Linked DNA regions of Homo sapiens: all the other regions are reported to be linked to region 4. The links are microRNA targets in miRTarBase. Many come from high-throughput screens and were not tested one by one. Region 4 holds a microRNA gene; each other region holds the end of a gene's coding sequence. Distances are between the middles of the regions.
Evidence for each region. Region 4 holds the annotated microRNA hsa-miR-30a-5p (UGUAAACAUCCUCGACUGGAAG, at 1,164-1,185, opposite strand). A microRNA usually pairs through its seed, bases 2 to 8, with sites in the 3' UTR of a target mRNA and lowers its output. Matches are read on the target gene's strand: a 7mer-m8 pairs with bases 2 to 8, a 7mer-A1 pairs with bases 2 to 7 and ends in A, and an 8mer does both.

Region 1 (4,059 bases), not on the chromosome of region 4:
AACATGGTGAAACCCCGTCCCTACCAAAAAAAAAAAAAAAAAAAATTAGCTGGGCATGGTGGCATGAACCAGTAGTTCCACCTACTCAGGAGGTTAAGGCAGGAAGATCTCTTGACCCCACGAGGTTGAGGCTTCAGTGAGCTATGATTGTGCCACTGCATTCCAGCCTGAGTGACAGAGCAAGGCCCTATCTCAAAAAAAAAAAAAAAAAAAGAAAAAGGAAAAAGAACCTTATGATATAATCCTGACCAGAAATTGGACTTAAGTATTTTTCAAAGCCATTTATGTTACTGGTTGGAAAAAAATGATAAAAGTGGACATTTTGTTTCTTAATAAGATTAAAAAGCTATGTACGATGTATTAAATATAAGTCGACATTTGATTATTCCTTAGATGCAATTCCAGAAACAAGTTGTCCAGGCAGGAGAGGCTGGCTTAGAATTTGTGGAGTATCTTACAATTGTGGTCATTGGAAACAAATCGAAATGCAGCAAATAAGCCACTATTCCTGTTGTTCCCCTTGTCTGTTTCTCCCAGCTTTATTCACTTAGAAACTTAATTTTGCCTGATCTGACAGGCACAAGAAGGAGCCAGGTGGAGGGAGGCTGGAAGCCTCCAAGGTTGGTCTTTCAGGAACAATGACAATGCTGTCTACTGAAAACCACTTCCAAACGGCTTTCAAAGCCCAGGAGTTTGTTTAGAGAAAATCTTGCTGGCATTGATGGATTTCTTCTCCTCTGACAGTTCACAGGAAAGAGTGTAGTATAAAGAATTAAGTGATTCATTCCAAACATCTGATGGGTTCCCTTCAAGTACTCCCCCTCTGATCCACTTCTTATGGCTGTGCTGAGCCTCCCCATCTGTGATGAGGTCATTTTGTCGGGCACACAGAGGATTCTAGGGGGAATATGCATCATATACTGCAGCTATTCACGGCATTCATTCCTCCTGGCTGCTCATGGGTAACAATGAACCTTCTCAGCATTACATGTGCTTACTAAGGAGACAGGGGTTAGATGCCTTTCAGTGGAACCCCCCGAGGCACACAATGCATTTATTATAATGTCTTGGCCCTAAGAAGGGCCTGGGAACAGCTTGGAGTGGTCTATAATTAAGTACATTTAATAATAAATGCACATACTTCTTAGGTATTGCAAGAAGTGAAAATAAGCTCTTCGTCTTCTCAGTCTCAATTCCCTTTCCCCATCATCCTTCCCCTTCACAAATCAGAAAAGCCAGGAGTACTGTGCTTTTTTAAAAATAGCAATTGCAGAGGATGTCTGGCTGGTCGAGAAAGGTAAATTAAATTACTTGAGAACATTCTTTCCATGTCAAAAAAAATGGCTTCTGCCTCCTCAGGTAGTTACGCATGGGGAGGATTTGCTAAAGGTTGGCTGTTCCTTTAATCTCCCTTGGATTCCACTTCCAAAGGCTTTCAGGGGCAGTGACCCGCTAGCTAAGGGGCATCCCTTGGGGTTAAGCTGCCACTTGGAAGGGCACTTCCTCAGATTGCTGCTGTGCCTAGCAAGGAAGCAGCAGTTAGAAGTGTTCCCCCGACAGTGTCCCATGTCCTCGGTCCCCACACCTCTGAGTGCTCGAATATGGGCAGATAGATAGACTTTCTGAGGAAAGGGAGAGGAAGAGAGCCCTGTGAATGTGGACAGGGTACAAGAAGAGAAGTCACACTGGAAGGAAGAGAAAAAGGCAGCAGGAGTGTGACATGTACATTTGTGAGATGCAGCAAGGGGCGTGGGACTGCGAGGGACGCAAAGGCATTAAGGGGCCTGGAGGCTGGAGGCCCAGCTTTGCCCCTGCCTGGCTGTGAGTGTGGCCTATTTTCTTGAACTTCTCTAAGCCTCAGTTTCTTTACTTGTAAAATGAGGATGTTAATGGTACCATGAATAGTTAGTGAAAGGTCTAGTAACAGGAATCTTGGGAAAGTGACTTAAATTCTCTGAGCCTCACTTTCTTTATCATCTGCAAAATAAGGTAAAAAATACCCCTGTTACATGCATTGTTGTAAGGATGAATGAAATAATGTATGCAATCACTTAGCATATACCTGGTTCACAGTAAATCATCAGTAAATGCTAGCTGCTGTTGTGGCGACCGTTGGAATGCAATTACATTTTTAAAGATACATGTTGGATTGAAATTGTTTGCATCATTGAATGGTTCAATACATGGAGCAGGTGTCTCACTAGAGGAACAAGAAAGCCATGCAAACTCACCAGGTAGTACCACGTTGGAAATCAGATTGCTTTTATTTATTTATTTGATAGTTAATGATAGGGAGAGGGGTGATAGAACAAATGGGTATTATCTTTTCTTCTTTCCTATAATTAATTAAAATGAAATTATGGACCTGTACAATTTCAATAGATATGGATGGATAGGATAATATTATTAATAATAGTTTTTCCAACTTAAGACCAGTTTTTTCAACTCACTGGTGCCCTAACGTTTCTGATTTTGCTATCAATCGTGAAGAGGAGTTTTTAAATTATATGGTTAAAGAGAGAATGACTTTTGCTGAAGCATCTTATTTTAAACAAAGTAATATTGAGCTTATTGATAAAATAAAGGTCAGCCCAAGAGTGTGTGGGAATAAGGTACATTTTGAAAGAAAAGAGAATGAGGCTTTAAAAAAAGTTGTTTTCTTTCTTTTTGTTACAGCTAAAAATTTCCAATCACCATTCACTTCAAATATACCACCTTGATTTTACTTTTTTTACTTTGCTTTAGGTAATTTTTATATGAATATTCTCAATAAATAATTTTCGTGTAAGCATTTATTATTTTGAGCATTACAGTTTGGACCCCAAAATGGAGTACTGTGAATTTTTTGAGAGATGCTAGAAGAACAGAAGAAACAGTAAACTTTTAAGGCAAGACATCTTTCTCCTCCCACTCTAGCAGCAAGGAGAAGAGGACATTTGCTCTTTAAGAGCCTTTTAAAAGTCACGTGGAAAGGCAAGCACTCCAAGGATTTTTTGATTCCTTTTGGCTTTGGCCAAGAAAATGAAATTATTGAGAACAGCCAGACTTTCATAAGATATTGCTGTTGGAGGGACTTTTTGGTGGGTTAAATATTATAAAATCATTGTTTTCTGGTCAATACAGAGCAGGGAGAAAATAAAAATAATTGTTGGATAGGAGCATTTTGGTGGGTTTTGCACAGACTTGCATCTTGTGTCAGAATGTGACATCAAAGGCTCAGTTTGATGGGGTCACTTTTCTAACGTGACCAGATGATGTGTTAAGGCAAAAGCAAAGTATTTTCTCCCCCTCAGGTTTTTGGAAATAGACCAAACACATAGTTCTCAAAACCACCTTCCTTTAACCCCAACCTTTGATAAAGTGCAGGTCAACTAGCTTGCCCTAATCACTTCTAAACTCATCAGTGGAGTATCTTTCCATGTTTAAGTCTCCTTCTGGCTGCTTCTCTGAATTCTCATTACGGAGCAAGTGTAGGAAGACCCAGGAATGCCGGAATCATCCAGTCACTGCATGGGTTCACTTCATCCATATCTTCTTTTTTTCAGAATACTCTTTATTCCTGTCTTATTTCAAATCCTGGTGTCATCAGGGTGATGAAGGGCACTTCTTAGACACTCGACAACATGGTGGAGGTGAAGATCTGTTGTAAAATCTGAGGGATATCCTTGGTATCCATGGCAACGAAAGACCGACCAGCTGGTAAAGTTCTCTGAAGCCTGCCAGGATGGAAAGGGAAAGGAAGTTACCACTGTAAATGGGGCTCCCTTCCACCTCCTGCCCTGGCAAACCACAGCCCCCTAATGGTTTCTTAGGAAAGGAAGTTTTTACTTTCTAATACCTTGCTCTCTGCCTACCATTGAATTAGTCGTCATTAAACAATGAAAGGCTTGGAAGAGCAACAAGGAAAGACACAGCAAAAGCAGGGAACTGAAAGAAAGGTCTTTTCAGTGAGAAAGTCAGTGAATTTGAAAAGAAAAAATTTTCTTCCTTTCTTTACTGCCATTTCTTGGTATTTCATATTCTTTTGGTATAACAGAGCCATAGGGATTCATATGGAAT
Region 2 (4,059 bases), not on the chromosome of region 4:
CCCCGCGGCCCCTCGGCTCACCCCAGGCAGCCAGACAGTCGATTTGCAGAGGCAGCTTTTCTAGGATCGGCACTGGCTCGAAAGCGTCGTGCATGGCGGCAAGGGGAGAGTTGCCACCGCCGTCTCGCCCAGAGTGTTCCGGGCCGGGCTGGGGTCCGGAACGAGTCTGGGCTAAGGGTAGACCGGGATCCGGCCAGGAACCCCCCGGCTACAGGCCCTTCAACAACACAGCCATCGTCAACCCCGGACTTCCTGCTAGTTAGGCCCGCCTCTTCCGCAGCCGAAGTCCCGCCCCTTCCTCCCGGTGCACTCTAAATGAATTGTTTTGTTGCTGAGTTGCCATCGTCACTCTGGACCCATAGCTACTCCATCCCGAGTAGCCATGGGCTTACCATAGAAGGAACAAACTCTTAATCTTAGAACTGCTTTAGGCAGTGGGCGTGATGGTTAAAAACTCGGCCTTTGGCGTCGACCTCAGACGGAGATCTACCAATTAGGAAATTAGCTGTGATTTAGAAAATTTAATATTTCGATGCCATACTTTCCTAATCTGCAAAATTTTTGTAAATACCTGTGACCTAGTGTCGTGAGCGCTTAGCAACACCTGACACCCACTAAGCTCTCAGTAAGTGGTAGCTTTAGTATTACCATTATATCCCAATTAGTACAAGCACCTTACCTTAATGCTTTCATGGTTGTTCTAGGCCAGTGGTTCTGAAAGTGGTTCTAGACCAGCAACAACAGCAGTAGCAGCAGCACCTGTGAACTTGTTAGAAATGCAAAGTTTCAGGCCCATTCCAGTTCTACTGAATCTGAAACTCGAAGGGAACAGCAACCTATGTTTTAATAAACCCCAAGGTGAGTCCATGCACTTAAAAGCTTGAGAACCACCATTTTAGGTTAGGGTTGTTCAGCGATAGCACTACCGGCATTTAGGACAGGATAATTTCTTGTTGGGGGAGGGGGCATGTTCTGTACAATGTAAGATGTTTAACAGCATCCCTAACTTCCACCCACCAAATGCCAGTTATCTTCCCCACAGAGGTATAAAAATGTCTCTTTTCCGTATGTCCTCTGGGAGGCAAAATTACCCTGAGAACCACCATTTGAGGCCAATGCTTTTCAAATTTAACGTGCATACAAATCACCTAGAGACATTGTTAAAATGCCTCTTTTGATTCAGTAGGACCAGAGTAAGACCCTCAGTTGAGCACCAAAAATCTCCCAGATGTTGCTGGTCCCTGGATCACATTTTGAGTAGCAAGAGTTTAGGCAAGAGATGATTCACTAACTCTTGGAAGTCAGTGAAATAAGCCTCCTTTTAATTTGATGACCACATTCCTACCAATTCAACTTTCCAAAGCTGTGTCTTACATCCTAATATTCCTTTAGGAAGGTGTCATGGCTTTTCCTCCTATAGGACCTGGGACCTGTACTGTCTGCGGTTACCTTAGTATTCCCCTTGAAGACTTAAAAAACAACAAAGTTTGGGCTGCAAGAATGATCTATATCTGGTCATTTCCCCCTAGGAAAACATCGTAGGTCAAAAAATTAAGCATTTGGGTTTAAAGCAAAAATGTAAAAGAAAAAGGGTAAGTCTGTGATATGAAGTCAAAAAAACTGGTCCTGGTCATTTTATTTTTACACAATATCAGTTTCTTCATATGTAAATTAGGAATACTTGTCCCATCTTTACCAAATGCTGTTCTGATAATCAAGTGAAAAGTACTTTCAAGTAGTCAAAAACATGAAAATTGCTACACAAATCCTGTGTTATAGCTGATTTTCACCATAGAAGCTGATCACCTTCTTAAAAATTTAGAATTACCAGCTGTTGTGCTGGAAGGTCTAGTACCTTTTCGTTCAGGCCCAAAACCCTAAGGTTTATATTGTTTTACAGATTACTGCAAAGCTATCAATTTCTTCTGAACCTAAGAAATGACACACTATATCTATTCCCAGTAATACAGAAAGCTGTAAGTAGAATTATCAGGGCCCAGGCTATAGAACTTGAACTATACACTCCCGCTTAACACAATGGGCTTTTTTTTTTCCTAGTCTCAAGTCAACATCAAAGCAGCCTAAAAAAATAATTTGACCAACTATCCTGCTGCATTACAACTATTATTCATCTGCTACGTTTTAATATGCAATAGCAGCATGCAACAATACCACCAGCTTTTGGCTAATGACTTAGCATGAGAATATAGTCAGTTCTTCAGATTGCTGTTCCTCAGAGATACTTCCTAGGAAACTTTTTTAAAAATCACCATAGCAAAGAGTTGTAGAGAAACTACCTAAGGGTTAACACTTTCACTGCAGTATGAGTTAGTGAAGATTGTGGTCATGTGGTCATTGGTTTTAACAGAAAATAAGACAATCTAGAATAAAAGCCATAGAAAGAAATTTTTCATGAGTTTGACAGAAAGAGTCTTTAGAAAAAGTTTGAAAAAAATGAGAAAAATACATTAATTTTGTTAAATTTTTTTATATTAAAAAGTGGCATGAACTTTTTATGTAGAACAAAAATCTTGGGAAGGCAAAATTGGATAAAACCATTAAAACAGAAATAGAGTGCTTCAAATGAATCCCATCACCTTGTGATGTCCCTTATTAACAGTCTCTAAACCAATACCAGATACCAGAACAGTCCATCCTAAAGAACGAGCAGCAGTCCAGGGCCTCCACGCTACTTCATGCAATAACTGTTTAAATTAAGCCAGCAGGACCTGTTTCCTTTGTATAAGCTACAACTTCTGAAGCATTACAGTTCCTCTAGCACGGTGCTCAATCACAGCACTTGGAGCACCTCTCTGCATAAAGGCAAACAAAACATTGCCTAAGGACCCTGCAATGCCACCCTTGGAGGCTTACAAAACAGTAGTTAAAAGTTTCGGAGTGTGCACCACATTGCCAGCAATGGGATGTGTCACAATAGCAGATGTCAAAAGAGTTAAGCTAATATTTCTCTTTAAAGTACATCTGAAATAGAAAAATCTTTAATATACACCATTTGTAAACAAAATTGCACTTGATTTTGCTTTTTTAAATGATCTGAATCATACTGTAACAGTTTCTCTTTTTTTTTTTTTCTTTTGATCATTGATAGAACTATGGCTCCTTAACTCAGAAGGGCCCTTTTTTCTCAAAACAACCTCTGCAAGATGTAACCTTGACTTCCCAGGAAAATGAAAGGTAGTTAACAATTTCCCCCATCACCTATGTAACTCCCTAAATAAATAAAAATTACAGGCAGTTGCTCCTGGAGATTACATATTATGGTGTTGATGACAATCTTTTAGAAGACGTTAAACTTTTTAGTTTGTCAGATTTAAAAAATGAAACATTACAGAAAGTTCAGGAACAACACACTTAAGTTGCATGAACATCCATGTCAGAGTCTGGGAGGAAAGGGGGCAGCAGTGTTGTAAATAAGAAGCTCGTAGATTTTTCTCATCTTATGAACTTGTTTTCAGTAAGATGTTCTCTTTGTTCTGACACCTCTCGCCAACTCCAATGCCCAAAGATCAAGGAACAGATCAGGATGTCATTGCTTCCTTTAATCCCATGGAGCCGTACAGAAGACTGACACAGATGCTGATCTCTTCCCTGATGGTAGCCATCTTTAACTGCAAATCTTCCCATTCCTTACTCCATTTTGGACCTTTCAAAGTGTGTGATCATTCGTTCCTAGGGAAAAAAAAAAAGGTTGAAGTATATTAGGTTAAAATGATCTATATTCCAAATATCTTCTATACAGACTATCCAAGCAAACATCTTCCACGAGTACTTTATGTTAATTAAATGTTTAGAGAAATGGTTCCTAAACATTTGTGAAGATTTTGAACATACAGATGTCCAGACCTCACCCAAGAACAACTAAATCAAAAGCTCTAGGCTTCTGGACAGAAAATCAGCACTCAGAAGGAAATGTATAGAGTCAGCTAAGATCTTATGTAAACAAATATTTACATAAGATTAGGCTTTAATAAAAATGTGTAACTCCTCTAATTCAGGAATTTCACTTGAAGACCCAGTGAAGGATGAGGGCAAAGACGT
Region 3 (4,059 bases), not on the chromosome of region 4:
GATACACAGATGGCAAATAAGCATATGAAAAGATGCTCAGCCTCATTAGACATTAGGGAAATGCAAACTAAAACCATAATGAGATACAACTATGTACCTATTAAAATGGCTAAAATTAAAAACTGATTAGCTAGTGTTGGCAAATATGGGAGGAACTGGAATTCTTGCACAGGGCTGGTGGAAATGGTCCCGCCACTCTGGAAAATAGAATGGTAGTTTCTTAAAAATTTAGTATACATCCACCATGACTGCCATTCTACTAGATGTTTATCCAAGAGAAATGAAAGTACCTATCCATACAAAGACATGTACACAAATGTTGGAAGAAGCTTTATTTGTAATAGCCAAAACCTGGAAAGACCTCAAACACACGTCAAAAGCTGAGTGGGTGAACACACTGTGGCTTATCTATAGAATGGAATATTACGCAGCAGCAAAAAGGAATGAACTATTGATGGACACCCCAACATAGATGGACATCAAAACTGATGAGTGAAAGAGGCAAGACAAAAAAAGTACATGTTGTATTAATGCACTCATTTATGATTTACAAAATTTTTTTTTTAAACAAGGTCTCACTTGTTTAAAAAAAGTGAGTGCAATCTTGGGTAACTGCAGCTTCGATTTCTCAGGCTCGGGTGATTCTTCCATCTCAGACTCCTGAGTAGCTCAGACTGCAGGTGTGCGCCACCATGCCCACTCATTTTTAAAATTTTTTTGTAGAGACGGGGTTTCCCAATGCTGTCCAGGCTGGTCTTGAATTCCTGGCCTCAAGAGATCTGCCCGCCTTGGCCTCCCAAAGTGCTGGGATTACAGGCATGGGCCACCAACACGCCCGGCTCATTTTAAAAATTTTTGGTAGAGATGGGGTCTCCCTCTGTTCCCCAGGCTGGTCTCGAACTCCTGGGCTCAAGTGATCCTCTCCACTCAGCATCCCAAAGTGCTGGATTTTACAGGCATGAACCACCACACCCGGCCTATCAACATTTCAAAGAATTAAGTGGAGAGGGACGTAATGCCTCTTGGGTGTCTGTGAACCCTTGTAGGCTGGGTTTCCGTCTTTCTCTGAACACACGCACCTGTGGACGTGCCAGGTCCCTGGGAGCTCCCTTTACAGATGTGTAGAGACGGAGCGGCAGCGCTGATGTCTCTTCCCATGCTGTGGCCCCAGCATGCAGGGCGAGGGACGGCCCAGGGGTTGGTGCACTTGCGTCCGAGGGGTCGAGGGGCCCCTCACACGTGTGTCCTCTCGGGCAAGCTCCCTGCCATTCATTTCTGGGTCTTGTGACAGAGACAGACGACGGAGCCTCGTGCTGGATGGGAGCTGGATGGGAACTGCTTGGTGCACAGGTGGGGGTCCTCCCAGTCCGCAGCCTCAGAATCACCTGCAGGGCTGACTGCGGCCCACCTGTCTCTGCCTCAGTAGGTCTGGCCTGAGGCCCTGCAATGTGCCTTTCTAACAAGCTTCCAGGTGAGGCTGCTGCCACTGGCTCCATCGCCACCAAGGACCACCGACCCAGGGGCTCTTGAGGGCTCTTCAAGGATGTGGCAGAAGCCACAGAGGTCAAAGGGCACACAAGGAAGAGGTGGAAGACCACCCCTGAGGGCCCCCGAAATCCCTGTGGCCACGAGTTACAGAAGCTGGCGCAGGGAACAGCCATGACGGTGCAACTCTGAAGGGGACCAGAGGGTGGCGAGGGTGTCTAGGGCAGGGGATGTGAGTCCATGGGGCAGGCTCAGCTATACATGCTGACCTCCCAATCCGGACACTCCAGCCATCCCCAAGGCTGAACTCCCCCAACCCTGACACCCCCCAGGGGTGACCTCCCCTAACCCAGACACCCCCCAAGAGTGACCTCCTCCCACCCTGACTCCCCCCAAGAGTGACCTCCCCCAACTCAGACACCCCCCAAGGCTGACCTCCCCCAACCCAGACACCCCCCAAGGCTGACCTCCCCCAACCCAGACACCCCCCAAGGCTGACCTCCCCCAACCCAGACACCACAAGGCTGACCTCCCCCAAACCAGATACCCCCCAAGGCTGACCTCACCCAACCCTGACACCCTCCGAGGTTCACCTCCCTCAACCCAGACACCCCCCAAGGCTGACCTCTCCACCCCGGCGTCCCCCCCAGGCTGACCTCCCACAACCTGGACACCCCAGCCACCCCCAAGGCTGACCTCCCCCAAGGCTGACCTCCCCCACCCAGACAATCCCAAAGGTGACCTTCCCCCACCCAGACAAAACACCCTCCATCAAGGTTGACGTCCCCCAACTCTGAAACCAACCCCCATCCAGATTGACCTCTCTGCACCTGGACACCCCACCTGCCAACCAGGCTGACCTCCCCCTACCCAGACACCCCCAAGGCTGGCCTGCCCTCACCCTGATGCCCCCCAAGGCTGACCTCACCCGACCCTGACACCCCCCAAGGCTGACCTCCCCAACCATGACACCCCTCCCAACGCTGGCCTGCCCTCACCCTGATGATGCCCCCCAAGGCTGACCTCCCCCAACCCTGACACCCCCCCAAGGCTGGCCTGCCCTCACCCTGATGCCCCAGCCCCTCTCAAGGTGAGTCCTATGGGGCCCTCCTTACCAGGGGTGTTCCCCGAACGTGTTGGGAGCTCCTGCCCCCTGGTGTCCAGAGCGGGCACTACGACACCCCACAGAGGAACTCTGGAATTCTAGAGGCTGGGATCCCTGCCTGACATGTCGGTTAGTTACCAACTCACAAAGTCAGGCATACACAATCATTAAAACAAACATTTTTAATTAAATTTTCAAACATGAAAGTATAAACGTTAATATTTGTTGAAAAATATATACGGCATTTCCCCCGTGTGAACACAATGGCTTCCGGTAACACTACCCACTTACAATGAGATCTTTTAGGCACTTGGGTGTAGAATGTGCGAGAGGGAAATGCAACTTTACTTTCCTGCTACCTATAGGGGCAACCACAATTAGATCTCATGAAATATTGTTTTCAACACTGTTAGCATTAACACCGACTTAAAACATACGGTGACCGGACATATAACCTTTAAAGTCCCAGTATATTTAAAACAGGAGAAATCTGATAAGTTGTTAGGATTCTAAATTCCTTTTAGTCTGTTCACTGAGATATTAAATTTCAGTAGACAGAACCCAAAAAGAGATTTCATTTCTTTCTAATCACTTTGGCTTCTTTCTTTTTTGTTAAGTAGGTAAAAACCTTCTTGGTGGGCACCTAAGCAGGATGCAGCCAATAGTTCATGAACCAGCTGCGCACGTGAGGCTTAAAATCTAAGATGCTGCTGAAGTGGCTGCGGGAGGAGCGGCTGCGACTTACTTTTAATTTCAAATCAGCTGCAGATGTTTGGGAGCCCTCTCGATGAACAGAACAAATCACATAACATGCAGAATCCACTCAGAGGCTGTTATTCCAGGGAAAGAGTGGGCAGGTGTCCTGAGGAGTACATTCTTGCTGTCACAGTCTCACTGCTGGCACAGAGGTGCCTTGTTTATGAGATTTAAAGGCCACAAACTCTGGCTCAGGTGGGGACAAGGGTGTGCCGTGGCTGAAACCAGCGTGGTCACTGTGTGGCTGGCACGGCCTGCACATGCTGCAGGAGCTGCTCGCAGTAGGTGGCCGAGCGGTGCTTGTGGATGACGGCCTCCGTCTCCCTCACCAGGAGATCTGGGAACAGCCCGCTGCCCTCTTTGAGGACCTCTGTAAAACAGAAAAACACCTTGAACATGCCAGAAACAAACATGAAACCAATCTTACCTCTCGTGCAAATTGGCTTTGTAGTGAAGTTCAAGCATCTGTAAAAGCATCTGCAAATAACCTGACGCTGCTGGGTGGACATACAGTAGTCACAATGCGGATACGAGTGATCCGACTCACAATGTGGGGACGAATGACCTGACGCTGCTGGATGGGGACACAGTAGTCACAATGTGGATACGAGTGACCCGACTCACAATCTGGGGACGAATGACCTGACGCTGCTGGATGGGGACCCAGTAGTCACAATGTGGATACGAATGACCTGATCCTGCTGGATGGGTGT
Region 4 (4,067 bases):
CTCCATCCCAGGTATTAGAAGAAATGCTACTATTTTAAATAGTGGTATGATCATACTGTTTTAGTATCACTTCTTTATCATCATCATCAATGGGTATTAAACAGGGAAAAGAAACTCTTTTACATTAATGGAAACACTATATATTTATAAAATACTGTGTTTTAGAGGACAAAAGATATCACTTTCATATCTTTTTAAAGTGTCTAGTTTCTATATAAGTGTATCCTTAATATTTCTATTATACACTTAAATATTTCTCTTATACACTTAAATATTTCTATTTAAGTGTATAATATTAAAAATATCCGCCATAAGAAAAATACGCATTTACAAAAAAGGAAAATTAGAAATTATGTCCATCACAGAAATCTTCTACAGGATTCTGAATCTTAAAATTGTCTTCATATATTTAGGATAGAATTTGATGTATTTATTATTTTTAAGAGATATGAGTTATTGCATAAAGCTAAGTTAAAAGTTCAACCAAATGGAAACAGTATCCACAAATTCCTAAAATACTATTCTAATCATCTGAAACAAGAATAGGTTTTTCAAATAATAGAGTTAGTTGAATCAGTATTTGTTTGTTTTAGACACTTTATTAAGCTGAGAGCTGCTACTTTATTACTTAAACACTAAGCCTATAAGGAAATAAAAGGGGTTTAATCCAAGTAATGTGAAAATAACTAACCCTTCATCTTACTTTTTTCCCCCAAATAATTGTGGTTTCATTAATGGATTTTTTTTTTGTGAATGGGTCTAAAAAACACCTATTTTGAAACTGCAGAAAGGGCAGGACAAAACAAATCACTTCATAGATTTTTCTGGGAAATATTGCCCTACTACGCTTTTAAAAAAAATAAAAATACTGTAACACATTTCCTCATTTCTCTTACGAATACTTTCTTTTTGATATTGCAAATTCTATGCATACACAGAGCACCTCCTCAATGCCCTGCTGAAGCCCTCTAAAAATGTACAGACATGGTTTTAAAGTGATTTAATTTATACCATTTTAATTCAGCTTTGTAAAAATGTATCAAAGAGATAGCAAGGTATTCAGTTTTAGTAAACAAGATAATTGCTCCTAAAGTAGCCCCTTGAAGTCCGAGGCAGTAGGCAGCTGCAAACATCCGACTGAAAGCCCATCTGTGGCTTCACAGCTTCCAGTCGAGGATGTTTACAGTCGCTCACTGTCAACAGCAATATACCTTCTTTAGCCTTCTGTTGGGTTAACCTGAAGAAGTAATCCCAGCAAGTGTTTCCAAGATGTGCAGGCAACGATTCTGTAAAGTACTGAAGCCTCATTCAAACAGCAATATTCTAGAAAATGTCTCAAATTCAAAACAAATAAGAAGGCTCATGGATGTCTATTATTCATCACCGAGCTTCTAGTTTCTATAAAATTTTGTGATATACTAAAACAACATATATAAATGGTTTCATTCATTATTGTTAGCCACAAGAAGTAAATAGGCAAGTGGCCAGGTTACTTAATATGATTTCAACATGCATTATGTAATTACAATCCTTTAAGCAAAAGTGACCAAACACAGAAACTAAATTATCTTAACAGCGTAAAGCGTACATTTAACATCAAATACTGCAGTTGAGTGAACTTAGACTACCGTGAAAATATAAAAGGTCTACTTGGAAAGTTATAAACTCTGACAAAAAAAAAAAAGACTTACATGCTGCTTTTATAGATCACTTTTGCTCTAAAGTCTGCTCCCAGAGAGGACTTGTACAGTCAGCTGATTTTTGAAAGAGTAAGCAACAATCAGGAGAAAAACAGAAAAGAATAACGAGGTATAACACAGGCATATATCAGTATGTGGATCAAAGTTTCCCACTGGAAAAACACAGAACCTATCACTCACAACAGTGACGCACATTAACTCCAAATTTGAATGTTTTGAATTCCACTCCCATTCTCTTATGAAAATAAATGAGGAAAACTGAAGGTTAAGCTCTATCAGTCACTACTTTCCTGAAGTAATTCAAAACCATTCTGAATCTAGTGAAAGATTAAGTTGATACAGAAAAGTGGGTGTGCCTTTCCCTGAGATTTGTTTTTAGATGAAGTTACCGTAAGGTTCTTAAATTGTGTAAGTCTTAGTAGTTTGTGATCTCAAACCCGAAACAAAAATAAAATCCACACAAAAAGCATCATGTTTACTGAAACTAACAAATATGAAGAACTCCATAAATTACTTTCTCAAAGCAAAGGGTAACTCTATCCCATTAAGGTTAAAAAAGTTAATCTTTGAGTCAGCAGGTGAAAACAAGCTGAATTATGTTGTGGCCTTTTTCTTTATTAACTAAGGACTTTGAACTATTAAAACTTCCTAGGGAACCAGTTTTCTCAATGGGTCAAGTCACACAGGGGAACAAAGCAAACTTTATCAGTGCTGTGCAATTCTACATTCCAGAAATTCTTAGTACTTGGCATTCATATACCACTGCTGACTAGAGCTTGAGTCAATCCACCAAACTCAGCTATGGCTACCAACCTTGTGAACTTCTCACCAAGATACCCACTTCTTTTAAGTTAGCCACGACTAGACAGGCAGAGTACTCTTTAATTAAAATAGATAAATACCAAGGCTTACACCCTGGGGGGACATTGTATATCAGTGACTCTTTACAAAAAGAAAATATTTTTACCACCATAAATTTTTCTCAAAGTGACAGGTCCCCTACTTGCCTTGGAATCTTACCACTTTTAAATAACTGTAAATTATTAAATAACATGTAAAACAGTGACAAGTAAATACTAAGCAAACAACCTCAAATAACAAATAATTACTTAAATAATTCTATTGCCACCCTCTCACTTTGAGAATTGCTGATCCAAGTGGGACCTATACTACTCAGTAACCAAAAAAACAAGCATGTAGTTTAAGTAATAATGAGTCTCAGTTAAACTGGTAAAATTGTCTGGCATCTGACTGGAATAAATCTGCTTTAGCTTTCACATAGACTTCACCTAGCTCATATCTTGCTAAAAGAGGAGCCCACATACATACAGGCAATAAAGTGCTTTTCCATTTATGAAGTATTATAACTAAGATCTTATGGTCTTTAATTATTTTGTTTAGTGAAAATTTGATGTTTATTCATGAAGTTCTGAGCAAAACGCTGTGTTTTCAAAGTTATGTTAAGGAATTCATTGGATCAGCAATTCTCCAAGTGAGAGGGTGGCAACAGAATGACCAGGACAGCTTCTTCTAACCCCACATACCTGATTGCCTCTGCCACATCCACATTGCAATTCTTATTCAGCTGATGGGGAGGCTGCTGGGTATGTAAATTTTGCAAAAGCTATCAAACAATTTTGCTACACCTTCAGGGCAGAGAACCATTGATCTAGAAGGACTGAGCTAAATAAGTTTAAGACTAAAAAATCTTGCCATGACCTGAGAAATATGACCAGTAAATCCATTTAAAAATCGTGAATTAAAAACAAATATGGCAGAATAAGATCCAATTGTGTTCAATACATCAGACTCTGATTTGTCTTATATAACCCTAGAAATGCTTACAAAAAACAATGTACCTACTTTAAAACCATAAGGATACTCTTTAGCCCTGTTAGACAAGGTCTCTAAAGTCTTCCCACCCTAAATTGCAAATCTGGATGTCTGTACCCTGGACAGGTTTTATTATCTTCCTCACATCAGTTTTGTTTTAAGTGCTTGCAGGATTAATTCTTTCTGGTGGAGGGTTTAGAAGCAGCCCGAGATAAAGTGTAAAAATTTTTTTTAGCTACCCTGAACCATTCAATCCTCTTCCACCCTTCTCCTCTCATGTCCACATAACCTTCTCGCTCTCTATCCTTGGAGTGTTTGCAGTGAAACTCTAAGAATGAACATGTTCCATGTCAGCACTGGACCCAGTGCCCAGGCTCTACATCCTCCAATCCTCCATCTCTTTGGGGGCTTAGTGTCCAGGGTAGCTGCATTAATAGTTTTGGCATTCATCTTCTGTCTTGTTCCTTTGGTAAAACACACCTAAAGGCAAGAAATCTAGGTGGTCTTTGATATCTTTTCTAGAAAGCATACATA
Region 5 (4,059 bases), 37 Mb from region 4:
TGATTAATGTTTTCTTAATTAGAGTTGTGAACCAAACAAAAGAACATATACCATTAGTTGATAGTGCATAGCTTTATGGACAGTCCAGAATAATACTTATTGGTAAACTGTACATGATTCTGAGCCGGGCGCAGTGGCTCACGCCTGTAATCCCAGCACTTTGGGAGGCTGAGGTGAGCAGATCACTTGAGGTCAGGGATTTGAGACTAGCCTGGCCAACATGGTGAAACCCCGTCTCTAGTAAAAATATAAAAATTAGCTGGGCATGATGGCACACGCCTGTAGTCCCAGCTACTCAGGGGGCTGAGGCACGAAATCACTTGAACCCAGGAGACGGAGGTTGCCATGAGCCAAGATCAGCCACTGCACTCCAGCCTGTGCAACAGAGCAAGACTCCATCTCAAAAAAAAAAAAATTATACATGCTTCTCAACTTTAAAATATGTGTTTTGAACTCCCCCACCTTGTATAAAATATTGGACTAAATTTATATTTTTTATTCTCAGGGTCGCTGGTCATCCTCTGGCACAGAACGAACGTTGTCTTCACATGTTTTTACAAGATGAAATAATAGATAAAAGCTATACTCCATCTAAAATAAGACATGCCTGAAATTTGGCAAGAAGGGGCAAAAACGTGACTATTAATGATTGATAAGCACCAGTGAAGAAGTTCTAACTTTTAGCATGCTGCACAGAAACTGGTATAACATGCCTTCAGTATACTAACACTCATATGCTCAGTTTTGTTTTGTTTTGGCAGTTGACAAGAAGTTAATTTGCTTTAGTAAAAATCCCTCATTCCAGCCTTTCTATATAAATAGCTCTTTCTTGCTGTTTTAATGTGGTGCACACTATAGCCTCACAAACCTGTTATTCCAGTGTAATCTGCAGTGTCGTAACTAAAGTTACTGGCTTGGTCTTATTTGCACAGTTTTTGCGTCTTGTTTGCTTCTTGCATCTGATTAACTAGAATATTTCTCTTTCCCCCTTTTAATTTGTGATGTCACTTGACCCCATTTATGTGTAGGAGCACTACACCATTGGTTTCCAATACTGCACACATAAGATACATACTTGTGTGCAGAAAGTATCTTCCTCCAGGCTTGTAATACCCTTCACATGGAAGATTAATGAGGGAAATCTTTATATTCTGTATAAAAACAAAAGCAAATTTATATACTAAAATCATTTGTCTAAAAATTTAAGTTGTTTTCAAATAAAAATTAAAATGCATTTCTGATATGCACTGATTGTGTTGCCTCCAGCTTTTTTTGCTCTCTATGAGTGACTACTTAAGTCACTTGTTGAGAGGGATTATTTACTAATTATATACTTCTCATTCCTGTAACTCCATTCCCTTTAAACAGTGGTGATATCAAATATACTTCCATCCATTGAATGGGGTATTTTTAACAACAACAAAAGTGATATACTAAAAAATGTATTGCTTAAGGCTTATTGAATCATTTTGAAGCACTTTGTGTATTTGAAAACTGCTTTATAATCTCATTTATTAAAAGGACTTTCAAAGATAAAATACCATTTCTCCTATTTTTCAGAAGTTTTTTCCTAGTCAACTGAGTGACTTGTTTAAACAAACTTAGCAAGGGTGTAATAACTCTTCTTAGTCAGCAGGTTTGTGCTTTCTCTTTAATTTGGTTTGGGATAGTAGCACACTTTATCCTCTTTAAGAGAAGGGCACAGTCTTCTAGCCTGACCTGCAAAAATGATAAGATACCAGAAAACACATGACTTCTTGCTGCCTAACTTGTGTTGTGTTCAGACCTTTCAGCCAGAATGTGGTCTCTAGTTTGTACAACTTGCGGTGGTTTGGGGACCCATTGTGACTTGGAGTTAAATCCCAAAGTAAAGAAATTTTGTCCTCCTACAGCAGATGCGTCTCCTCTGAAGATGGATCAGTCCATTTAAAAGGAAACAAGCTTGGGTCTTGGCCAAACTAGGATGTCCACCAAGCACATAGAAGTCATAGGAAGAAGTCAGAGTTGCCCCATAAGGCCTTTTGTTGCTCAAACAGTATTTCACAGTTCCCTAATACTGGATGTTTCAATTACTGTAAGAAGGTACAAAGCTAAACAACATGTAAATTTTATTTCAGTGAACTAGAGAAGTAAAGTCAGAGGCTGTCAGTTTTGGGTATGCAGAACAGAATAATGGTAGCTCTGCAAAACCAAATAATTCTTTAAAGCAGTGGTTCTCGGCAAGGCACAGTGGCTCTCACCTGTAGTGCCAGCACTTTGGGAGGCCAAGGCAGGGGGATTGCTTGAGGCCCGGAGTTCTGAGACCAACCTGGGTAACATAGTGAGACTATGTCTCTACAAAAAGTTTAAAAATTAGCTGGGCATGGTGGTGTGTGCCTGTAGTCCCAGCTACTTGGGTGGCTAGGTGGAAGTGTATCTTGAGCCCAGGAAGTTGAGGTTGCAGTGAGCCAAGATCATGCCACTTAATTCTAGCCTAGGCAAGAGTGAGAGACCCAGTCTCAAAAGAAAATTTTTTTTTCTGTTAAACATTAAAATAAAGCAGTGGTTCTCAACCAGGGATGATTTTGTCCCCCAGGGGACGTTTGGCAATGTCTGAAGATATTTTTGGTTGTCTCAACTAGGGAATGTTACTGGACTCTAACAGGTGGATGTCAGAGATGCTGCTAAACCTCTTAAAATGAACAAGCCAGCCTCCCACAGCAGAAAAATGTTAGTAGTGTCAAGGTTTCCACTCACCGTGGAGTCTTGATTTTGATCATTTACAGACAAGGAATAGCGTGGTTTAGGATGGCTTGTACTAGCCTGCCCGCTTTTAACCTCTACCACAATTTCCTAAGGGCAGGCATGCTCTTGAAAAGTCAAGGGTTTTAAAGTAGGTGAAAAGTTTATTCCAGGTAACGTGTTTTTGCCTAATGGAGGAAGGTGCTTTTCAGTGTTATCTTGTAGGAAATTGAGACCATGGTTTATAGTGAAACTATGCCTTTAACCCGCTGAAGTAAAAATGCAGGTGCTCTTAATTCTAACTACATAGGAGGGGGTTCCAGAATCCCTTAAGAATCTTCCTAAAAAAAAATTAATTTGGCAGTGAGTTACAAAGCAATAGATGGATAATTCTAAGGAATCTCAGGCTCTGTGTCCACTATTCAAGTATTTAATTGCCTTGTCTCAACTCCTGCCAGTTATAAAGGGTCAATATCAGTGGTAACTTTATAACTTACATCGAGGATTACATGTAAAATTCATAGGACAGTGTCGGAACATATAAAAGCATAATAATAGTTATCAGTTGGCAGTGGTAGTCATAATAGTAGTAGTAGCAAATGGTACCACTCTTACTCATTTGCCATGGCAGTTCCAGAATAGGTTTATCTGGTATTTGGTTTCCTACCCAGAGGTTCTAACATCATGACCCCTGGTAGTGATTATGACTTTGGGGAAGGGGTGTTAGGGGAGGAGGAGCATCTCCTTTTTATACATCCCATGGTTTTTCCACTCAGCCCTCTTTGCTAGGAGGCCATCCTAGATTAAAATTCCGTCCTGTTGCCTCTGCTTGCTTTGCCTTTTTTGGTTACATGAGTGGGGCGAATATGGCCAATGAAAGAATAAGGCTGTGGCCTCTAAGGCCTTTACAGATAAAATGTGTTTGAGGTATGGATGGACAGAGTTTAGCCCACTCCCTCGCATATAGATTAATACTCAGTGGGTGCCAGCTGCTATTACTAACAATATGCCAGTGTTTAGGCTAGGAAAGGAGTTAAAACTGTTTTGGGATAGAGAGAATAAGTTTGTAATAATTCCACTGTGATCTCTGTCACAGAACTTCCCTATGAAGTAGATAATGTTATTTTTACAAATGAGAAGACTGAGGTTTTGAAAGCTTGAGCAGAATTTTCAAGGTTAACCAGGAGAGGATGGTACTGCATTTAAACTGTGAAGACGTTTGATTCTAAAGGCCATGGCTTGGTGTACTTCCTTCTTGTGGACAGGGCCTATGACTTTTTTTTTTTTTTTTTTTTTTTTTTTGAGATGGAGTGTCACTCTGTTCCCCAGGCTGGAGTG

Region 1: miRTarBase lists VWA8 as a target of hsa-miR-30a-5p. The part of its 3' UTR that is shown has no 7-base or 8-base seed match.
Region 2: the mRNA of TMEM87A is a reported target of hsa-miR-30a-5p. Seed matches in the 3' UTR shown: 8mer at 3,015-3,022.
Region 3: miRTarBase lists DNAAF5 as a target of hsa-miR-30a-5p. The part of its 3' UTR that is shown has no 7-base or 8-base seed match.
Region 5: miRTarBase lists SNX3 as a target of hsa-miR-30a-5p. The part of its 3' UTR that is shown has no 7-base or 8-base seed match.

The regions. Positions count from the first base shown.
Region 1 is chr13:41,564,590-41,568,648 of GRCh38, forward strand. It overlaps VWA8 (von Willebrand factor A domain containing 8), which reads right to left. Exons shown (of 45, transcript NM_015058.2): 45 at 2,246-3,716. The coding sequence ends at 3,608. MIR5006 (microRNA 5006) reads right to left here and starts at 3,806; the gene lies at 3,697-3,806.
Region 2 is chr15:42,208,060-42,212,118 of GRCh38, forward strand. TMEM87A (transmembrane protein 87A) reads right to left here. Exons shown (of 20, transcript NM_015497.5): 20 at 2,388-3,690. The coding sequence ends at 3,649. It overlaps VPS39 (VPS39 subunit of HOPS complex), which reads right to left and starts at 245. Exons shown (of 25, transcript NM_015289.5): 1 at 22-245. The coding sequence starts at 94. VPS39-DT (VPS39 divergent transcript) reads left to right here and starts at 342. Exons shown (of 3, transcript XR_932181.3): 1 at 342-625; 2 at 705-858.
Region 3 is chr7:785,174-789,232 of GRCh38, reverse strand. It overlaps DNAAF5 (dynein axonemal assembly factor 5), which reads right to left. Exons shown (of 13, transcript NM_017802.4): 13 at 2,758-3,716. The coding sequence ends at 3,580. Among named protein-coding and RNA genes, the nearest start is that of SUN1, 45 kb to the left of the region's middle.
Region 4 is chr6:71,402,432-71,406,498 of GRCh38, forward strand. It overlaps MIR30A (microRNA 30a), which reads right to left and starts at 1,190; the gene lies at 1,120-1,190. RefSeq lists an enhancer at 1-186.
Region 5 is chr6:108,208,701-108,212,759 of GRCh38, reverse strand. SNX3 (sorting nexin 3) reads left to right here. Exons shown (of 4, transcript NM_003795.6): 4 at 506-1,538. The coding sequence ends at 611. Among named protein-coding and RNA genes, the nearest start is that of NR2E1, 45 kb to the right of the region's middle.